Linked DNA regions of Homo sapiens: region 2 is linked to region 1. Evidence: fine-mapped expression QTL. A gene starts in region 1. The other region holds a variant in brackets. All regions are shown on one strand. Distances are between the middles of the regions. Region 1 holds the start of FAH (fumarylacetoacetate hydrolase). Region 2 overlaps FAH (fumarylacetoacetate hydrolase).

The links.
Region 2: its variant is fine-mapped to the expression of FAH in atrial appendage (GTEx, PIP above 0.99). The same link has a PIP of 0.9 or more in left ventricle.

Annotation. Positions count from the first base shown.
Region 1 is chr15:80,150,188-80,154,571 of GRCh38, forward strand. FAH (fumarylacetoacetate hydrolase) reads left to right here and starts at 2,812. Exons shown (of 14, transcript NM_000137.4): 1 at 2,812-2,948. The coding sequence starts at 2,868. RefSeq lists a silencer at 2,241-2,800.
Region 2 is chr15:80,176,043-80,180,426 of GRCh38, forward strand. It overlaps FAH (fumarylacetoacetate hydrolase), which reads left to right. Exons shown (of 14, transcript NM_000137.4): 11 at 1,495-1,541; 12 at 4,082-4,183. Among named protein-coding and RNA genes, the nearest start is that of FAH, 25 kb to the left of the region's middle. The variant C/T (reference allele first, on the strand shown) is at 2,450.

The DNA of each region.
Region 1 (4,384 bases):
GCATGCACCTCTTCATTGAACCGTTATTATTACCATCTAAAACATTGCGACTTCCTTAGCTAATGACAATGATCATAATAAAGCCTATTGGGCCTCAAGGAAAAATATTCAAGAGAATAAGGTAGGGAAAGACTGAAAAATTGCATCTATGTAAAGTTTATAAGGATGGAAAAGCCATGTGCATACAAATGGAATGAAAAAAAAACATGAAAATGAGAAGACTACATTGGTGGGATTATGGGCAATCTCTTTGTTTTAAAATTCTTTTTAAATAATTGTTGTGATATACGTGGCCAACACATTCTCTTCCAAAAAATGAGAAAGAAAAAATATAGTATACTTGCAAGTTATTTCAAATGCTGTTTTCCAAATAGAGAACAGCTTTGGCGTTTTCAGACACTGTGTATAATTAGTGGGTTGGTTAAGTCTATTTTAAAACTATGAAATCTTACTCCCTCTTTAGCCATCTCATCCCCACACCCTTTCCTACACATACATCTGCCCCATGTCCTTTCCCTAAAATACTTTGGTTTTCTTTCTCCAAGGGTTTTATCATTTAGGCTTTTGTTAACTTGTATGTATTCAGTAGAAGCTCCTGGCCTAGCATCCCCCACACAACACATGCTCCATAAAAACAGGAATTAAAGATGTGAGTTGCTGGTGTATCCCCATGGCCTGGCATAGGGCATGGGCTTATTAGTTATTGCTTCATTTCCTTTTGGTCAACAGTTTTATATTAATGACATGTATTTATGGAGAACCTATTCTGTGCCAGGTGTTTTGCTGGGTATTGACAGAGTTGCACATGGAATAAGAAAGCTCGTGGTTTTAATGGGAAGGGGCAGGGCAACTACAGAACGTGGAAATAATTCATTGCGTTGCAGCTGAGGACTAGCTTGAATTAGGCAGGTATCAAGTGCTCCCTGGAATGCCTCTTTATAAGGCCACCAAGTTGGGATACTCTCCTCTTCTTTTCCTCTTTCAGGAACCTACCAGAACAAATCAGACCACCTTCATTCCCTCCCCAGGGCTGACTTAAAAGAACTGAAGCCAGTCCTTGGCAGAGCCACTCAGGGCAGGAGATGAGAGCCAAGAGGCTGTGCCCAGATTACACTCCTTACTGGGTGATGATCACTGGTCACGCCTGGTGGACAGGCACCAGAGTGATCTCAGGGGCTAGGAAGGGGGGCTCAACAGCGGGCCCTGCTTGCCGTACTCGCTCCTCTCAAGCCGTCTGGTTTCAAGCCCACTTAGCTCACATTATCCTGCCATCTTCCAGCCTCTTCTCCCTAAGCTGAAATGCGGAGCAGCCTCCCTAACTCAGCAGTCACTGTGTCACATTCCTCAAGGATCTTCAGGGAACCCTTGCCCAGACTATCGTCTACTTTTCTAGATTTCAGCCGGCATCCTGGCTGTTTAAAAGTGTACCTGAATCATTCACACCAACAATAACACAACGACACACTCTCCGGTGTGTTCCAAGTGTCCTGGCTGTGGCATGGTCTCAAAAAACTGCAGCTGACTGCACATGAGTGATTAGATAACACCTTGAACCCACCCTAAGATAGTCTGCCTTTCCCTTCTTTCCTGTCTTCCTTCTTTTCTTTCTCCCTCTCTCTCTTCTCCTATTTCTCTTTTATCTTTCCTTTCCTTTATCCCCCTCCCCTCCTTTCCTCTTTTTCCCTCCCTTCTCTCTCTTTCCACACACACATAACCTGTATATGCCAGGCACTATTCTAGGTGCTTCACAAATATTAATTCATTCCATTCTTATATCAACTTTGTGAAGTAGGAACTATTATCATCAACATTATACAGAGAAGGAAGCTGAGGTAGAGAAAGTTTAAGTAACTTGTCCAAGGTTGAGCATCTTGTCAACGTCATTTTACTACTGGCATGTGAAACAGGTGAGTTATATTTTTTAGAATATTAATTCTCATTAATTGAAGCCTTCCAAACAGGCCTAACTGTCCCCTTCTCTGACATACAAGTGGAAGTGTCATAGCTGGACGGAGCATCATGGTATGAAGGCAGAAAGGACGCGACTGGGTGTTCTTCTGAAGCTCAGGGAGCAGCTCTTGGGGAGAAAGTGTTTCCAGGAAGCGGACAAGAGTTCTGTTGAGCTGAAGAGCAGGGCAGCAGCCGGGGCGAGCGAGGCTGGAGTCATGCAGGGCAGAGCCTTAAATGCTAAGCTGGGGTTTGCTCTCGGTAGGACCAGCTAGCTGCCCCGAGCGGGGGCTGGAACCAGATCTCCCCCACGTGGACTCGCGGACAGGGCGGGGATCAGGACGGGGGCGGGGCCAGGGGAGGGGCGGGGCTCGGGGAGTGAGGCAAGACTGGAGGGCCTGGGACTCTCGGGTACCCGGGCCAGGGGAGGGGCGGGGCTCAGGGAGGGAGGGAGAGACTGGATGACCTGGGGCTTGCAAGGCGGGGCGAGGGGAGGGGCGGGGCGAGGGGAGGGGCGGGGCTCAGGGAGGGAGGGTGAGACTGTGGAGGACCTGGGGCTCGCGGGGTCGGGGCAAGGGGAGGGGCGGGGCTCAGGGAGGGAGGAGAGACTGGAGGACCTGAGGCCCACGGGGGCGGGGCCAGGGGCGGGGCGGGGCTCTGGAAGGGCGGGCGAGACTGTGGAGGACCTGGAGCTGGCGGGGGTCAGGGTAGGGGGGAGGGGCAGGGCTCGGGGTTCGGGGGCGGGGTGTTCACGGTGAGACCAAAAGTCAGGTAGGAGCCTCCGGGGTCCCTGCTGTGTCACCCGGACAGGCCGTGGGGGCGGGCAGGGGGGCGGGGCCGGGCCTGACCACAGCGGCCGAGTTCAGTCCTGCTCTCCGCACGCCACCTTAGGCCCGCAGCCGTGCCGGGTGCTCTTCAGCATGTCCTTCATCCCGGTGGCCGAGGATTCCGACTTCCCCATCCACAACCTGCCCTACGGCGTCTTCTCGACCAGAGGCGACGTGAGCAGTGGGGCTTTGGCGTCCGGGCGCGGGGAGGGAGTGGAGTGGAGTGGAGTGGAGTGGAGTGGAGTGGAGTGGAATGGAGTGGAATGAGGGGCGGGATGGAGGCTTGTGCCATTTTTCTCTTAAGATTCGTTCCGTGAGAGTGCCTATGGGCTCGAGTCCCGCCTCGTAACTTTCTAGCTGTGCACGTTGTTTAACTTTTCAGCCTCATTGTCCGCAGGTTTGCTGAGAATTAAATGCAAAATGAAATGAATCGTGTCACTCTCCCAGACAAGCAGAGCAAGCAGGATTCTGTTACCGGAAGCTGCAGCACACAGGCATGCTGCCTACTCCGAGGTGGTTGCGGTGTGTTTCTCTCGCCCAAGAGGCCAGGTCAGGGCTGGTGGTTCATCTCGCTGGATAGCCCCTAACCCTAGAACCCGGGAAATGATAACCCGGTATGCGTAGCAGGTCAGAGGGGCACGCGCGTTTCTTGGCTTAGAGTTGTGAGATCTAAGATGGCAAGTGTCTCTGCCTATAGCTGAAATTCTTTCAGCTCCTGGTGTGGGCTCCCTGGCATTCCCCTACTGATCAGAAGAAAGAGGGCAGGGAAACAAACTTTGACTAAGTCAGTGTAGTCTGATTGGTAGAAAGAAGTATTTGAAAACTGGGGGTTTATCAGCAAATAGATAATAAGAGGTTCCCTAGGTTGGAAAAGCAGATTCCCTTGGATTTGTTGATGATATTTTTGGCTTAGATTTCTGCTCCCAACTTTAAAGGTAAACTCCTGATTCATCTCTGTAAGCCATAGAACCCCAGAATCAGGAAATGTTTGCTAAACGAGGGGCCTGGCAGTTGGCTTCTTCTTGGAAAGTGGGGTTCCCTCCTTCCCCCATGGCTTGTCATTGGATGCAAGTGGCTGGCCTTTTGTGGGCCTGTCTGCGGTAAGTGCTTTGGTCTAGAAGAGTCAACTTGTGGTTTCACATCTGGCCGGGCTGACCAGATGTTGCAAGGATACAGAAAGTGGACACTCAATCCCCTGGAGGACACAATCTGAGGCACATTAAATCTTAACTTGTGATGGCCAACAACCTTTCTGCAGACAGAGCCCTCCCTCTGCCCTCCTCAAACACTTTGCCCTCGGCAGATGTGTCCTCCCTCACCTTTCCTGGGAGCACAAATCCATTAGACAGAAACATTTGTGAGAGGCAGGCACACCCCAGTAGGGAGCTCTGACTTGCTTTCTCAGGGGAATCGAATTAATATCCGTTAGAGTGTGGCTAGGTGTTTTCAGACACCATGTCCCGCTGTTTCAACATCAGAATGTGCAGGGCAGCCACTACAGATGTCTGGAAGAGAGAGCCCCATTCCGCTGTCCTCTGATACAGTGCTGGGGGTGGAGAGTTGGCCCTTTGGCCTTCCAGCTGAACAAGCCTCTTCTGAAGCTTTCTCTG
Region 2 (4,384 bases), 26 kb after region 1:
GTTTCACTCTTCTTGCCCAGGCTGGAGTGCAATGGTGCGATCTTGGCTCACCACAACCTCTGCCCCTGGGTTCAAGCGAGTCTTCTGCCTCAGCCTCCTGTGTAGCTGGGATTACAGGCATGCGCCACCATGCCTGGCTAATTTTGTATTTTTAGTAGAGATGGGGTTTCTTCATGTTGGTCAGGATGGTCTTGAACTCCTAACCTTAGGTGGTCTACCCACCTAGGCCTTCCAAAGTGCTGGGATTACAGGCGTGAGCCACCATGCCCGGCCAGCTCCATTTCTTTCTTCTGTCTGCTCTGTCTGTACACTCCAGGCTTTGCCATGTCTGTCTCACTGTCAGTTCCAGGGTCTCGGCCCTTCATGAGGTGGTTCCTGTCAGGAGGCGCAGTACACTGCAGGAGCTGTCGCCATGGGAGCAGGATGCTCCATGGAGAAAGAGCTGTCACAGAGAGCCTCCTGGCTGCCCAGGGCCCTCTGGGAAGCTGTGCTGGGCCCGCTCTTTCAGGTTCCAGGTCAGGAAGCTGAGGCTCAGAGAGGAAAAGGATTCACCCCGAGCCACCTACCTGGCTAATGGCAGGGCTGGGACTCAATCCAAGTGTGTCACAAGTTCTAGGTTGGCCTCCTGCCACCCACAATGCGTGCTTGGAGTATACTTTCTATCTGGTTTTGTCCTCAGTATTCCTGGCTGCCTAGAGGTGAACCTGCCCGCCCGGGGGAGGCCACTGGTAGAAAAGGGACAAGATTATCCAGAAAGCACAGTGTCCAGAGATGTAGTCCTGCATTTGCAGTTCTGATGTTCTGAGTTGGGATCTGGGCGAAAGGGTCTGGGGAGGAGCAGCCTTGGCAGACCCAGACCTCGCATGGCTGAAGAGCACACCTGTTCTGTGCCACCTCAGAGGGGAAGTTAGGACCAAGGGAGGAAGCCAGGTTTTGAGGGAGCAGAGGAGCTTTCTACTTATTAGTGCTGTTCAGAAGTGGAACGGCAACAGCCCGGTACCTTGCATGTAGTAGATGTTTAGTAAATATTGTTTAGTACGTTGTGAAGTAGCACACTGCCCATCACTGGAGGAGCTCGGCAGGGGACAGATGACCCAGCTATCCAGAGGACTCCTGAGGGGACAGCAGGTTATCCTTGATCAAAGGTCACAAGTAGCTTTCAAATGGCACACTATCTTTAGTGGATTTGCGGGTGCCAGGATCACTGTGTTAAGAAGGATTCTGAGGCTACATATGGACTCAGAGCAAACATGTGCTGTGATCAATTAATGCTGCCTGCTGTAGGCGTGGGAGGAGGAAGTGATGACTTGTGTGCATGTATTGGCCAACCCTGGACCTCCCAGCTCTGATGTCCTAGGAGCTAATTGTTTCACAGACTCTAAGTGAAATCATGTTGGACAATGGGAAGCTTCAGCCACAGAACAATTCTTTTTTTATTTTCCTCCCTGATGCATGGAATTAAGTTTTCATCAATATTGCTTTTCTTTCCAACAGGAGAAGGAATGAGCCAGGCGGCTACCATATGCAAGTCCAATTTTAAGGTAAGCTTTGACGCTGATCAGACTGCTTTTTAGAATTGAGGGAAAGAGAGACTTTTCTTCCTGGCAGGAACAGGAGGAGAGCATTCCTTTTGGGATATGATGATGGGTCAGCCTGTGGGCCTGGAGCTTCCATGGCCTGTCTCTTTTAGGAGTGGCCATGGGGTCACAGAGTTCTCTCGAGATAGAGGCTGCATAAATGTGGCCAGTGATTTTCTTGGGGGAAAATAGGTGTTCCTGTAAAGGTCTAGTTCCTGGTTTATCCTGTCCTGCCAGGGGCTGTATTGATGAGAGTGACTTATTTTTTAAGTGAACTTTTAATTGAAGCATAATATACATAGATAAAAATGCACACATTACTGTAATCCCAGCACTTTGGGAGGCCAAAGTGGGAGGATCGCTTAAGCCTAGGAGTTTGAGACCAGCCTGGGCAACATAATGAGACCTTGTCTCTGCAAAAAGTAAAAAAATTAGCCGGGCGTGGTAGCATGCACCTGTGGTCCCGGCTACTTGGGAGGCTAAGGCAGGAGGATCGCTTGAGCCCAGGAGGTCGAGGCTGCAGTGAGCCATGATCACACCACTGCATTCCAGCATGCGTGACAGAGCAAGACCCTATTTCAAAAAATAAAAATTAAAAAAAGTGCATATTATACATGTACAGCTTGAAGAATTTTCCTAAAATGAACATCCCTGTGCAACCAGCACCCAGATCAGAAATGGAAAATTTCCAGCACCTCAGCAGCCCCGTGGGGCCCTCCAGGTCACTTCATCACTCCCTCCAGCAAAGGTCACTCCTCTCCTGACCTCTGCTACCATGTATTATTTTTTTTCTGTTTTTCAGTTTTATAGAAATGGCATCATAAAGTAGCATGTATTCTTTTGTAGCTGGCATCTTTGTTTTAGTGTTAGAT[C/T]TGTGAGATTCAACCCTGTTGCTCTTTGCAGTGACAGCTCATTTTTCTCATTGCCTTATAGTGTTGCACTGTATAAATATTCCACAACTGACTTAATTTTTTTTTTTTTTTGAGATGGAGTCTCGCTCGTTGCCCAGGCTGGAGTGCAGTGGCGCGATCTCGGCTCACTGCAAACTCCGCCTCCTGGGTTCATGCCATTCTCCTGCCTCAGCCTCCCGGGTAGCTGGGACTACAGGTGCCCGCCACCACGCCCGGCTAATTTTTTTTTTTGTATTTTTAGTGGAGATGGGGTTTCACCATGTTAGCCAGGATGGTCTCGATCTCCTGACCTTGTGATCCGCCCGCCTCAGCCTCCCAAAGTGCTGGGATTACAGGCATGAGCCACTGCGCCCGGCCAACTGACTTATTTTGTAAGTCACATCAATTCCACAATCGATGGACATTTGGTTGTTTCCGTTGTTTTTGGCTATCACAGAGTTACTGTGAACATTTTAGTACACACCTTTTGGTGCACATATGTGCACATTTCTATTGAGTGTATATCCAGTAATAGGCTTGCTGGGTCATAGAGTACACATAGACTCAGCCTAGGGGTACTTCCAAACAGTTTTTTGAAGTGGTTATACCAGTATATACTCCCACTAGCAGCATGTAAGCATTTTGCCTGCTCCACATCCTCGTCAGCTCTGGTGGTGTTTGCCTTTTCGTTCAAACCGTGCCTGGGATTGTGACTTCAGTTTGCATTTCCCTAATGACTAATGCAGCTGGGCATGTTAGTCATATGTTTATGGTTCATTTGTTTCTTGGCCTTTTGAATATCCTCTGAATCATTGAACTATTTCTAGTTTCCCTAATTTCCCTTCTAATTTAATATTATTCTGGGCTCCTTAGGGCTAGTAAGAAGAAATTAAGGGGCCTCCTTGCAGGGGCTCGTGGGCAAGAATCCATCTTTTGGGTTTCCTATGCCGGGATGTGTGGCTGTAGGAATGGCAATGTGAGAAGCTGTGGCCTGGGACAGGCATGGGCGTGCATTGCATCTGAGCGTCTCGGTGGGCACGTGGTGCCTTGGCCCCCTCTGCCCACAGCCTGACCGCCCACAGCTCTCCCTCGCTCCTTGGCCTGCCCTGACATCGTGTTTGAATCGTTCAGCTCCATTGCCCAGTGTCCATCCCAAGGCCCGGCATGGGAGAATGGGAGCGAGGGCTTTGCTCACGAGAAGCCTCTGCTGTGGTGTGGACTTAGATTCTCCCAATACGGGACTGGAGGGTGTTCCCAGGGCAGAGTGGAGTGTTGTACACAAGGGCATGTTGCAGGCTGAGGGACTGAGCAGTAAGGTCAGCCCTTAGGGGATGCTGCTTGGAGAAGGTGGTCAGTGTGGGCTTGAGGTAGCAGAGGAGCTGAGGTTGGAGTTTGTGAAGGAGATGGAAGAGCTTGGGGGAGGTCTCTGGGCAGCTCCCCAGGAGGACAATGTGTCCTTACTATAAGGGACTGGAGAGAGCTGGCTGGGGGAGCTGGGGACCGGGGAAAGGCCAGGGAAGGCGGTCGTGAGCAGGGCAGGCTGTGCCCAGCTGCCTCCGGGATGCTAGGCTAAGCCTGCCGCTGCTCATTCCACCTCGCGTCCATTGCCTGCAGTACATGTACTGGACGATGCTGCAGCAGCTCACTCACCACTCTGTCAACGGCTGCAACCTGCGGCCGGGGGACCTCCTGGCTTCTGGGACCATCAGCGGGCCGGTGAGTATCTGGCTGCACTGAGGGCTGCCCACGCAGAGCATCCCTGCTCCCCACACAGCCCCAAGGGCCCTCAGCTCAGCCTCGAGAAGAGATTTCAGGCCCGAGGTGGGTGTATCTCACAACTCTGTCTTCCTCGTAGCCTTTCTCTCTGGGTGCAGGAGGGACTTCTCATCCAAATTCAAACCTAAAGAGACTGGTGTG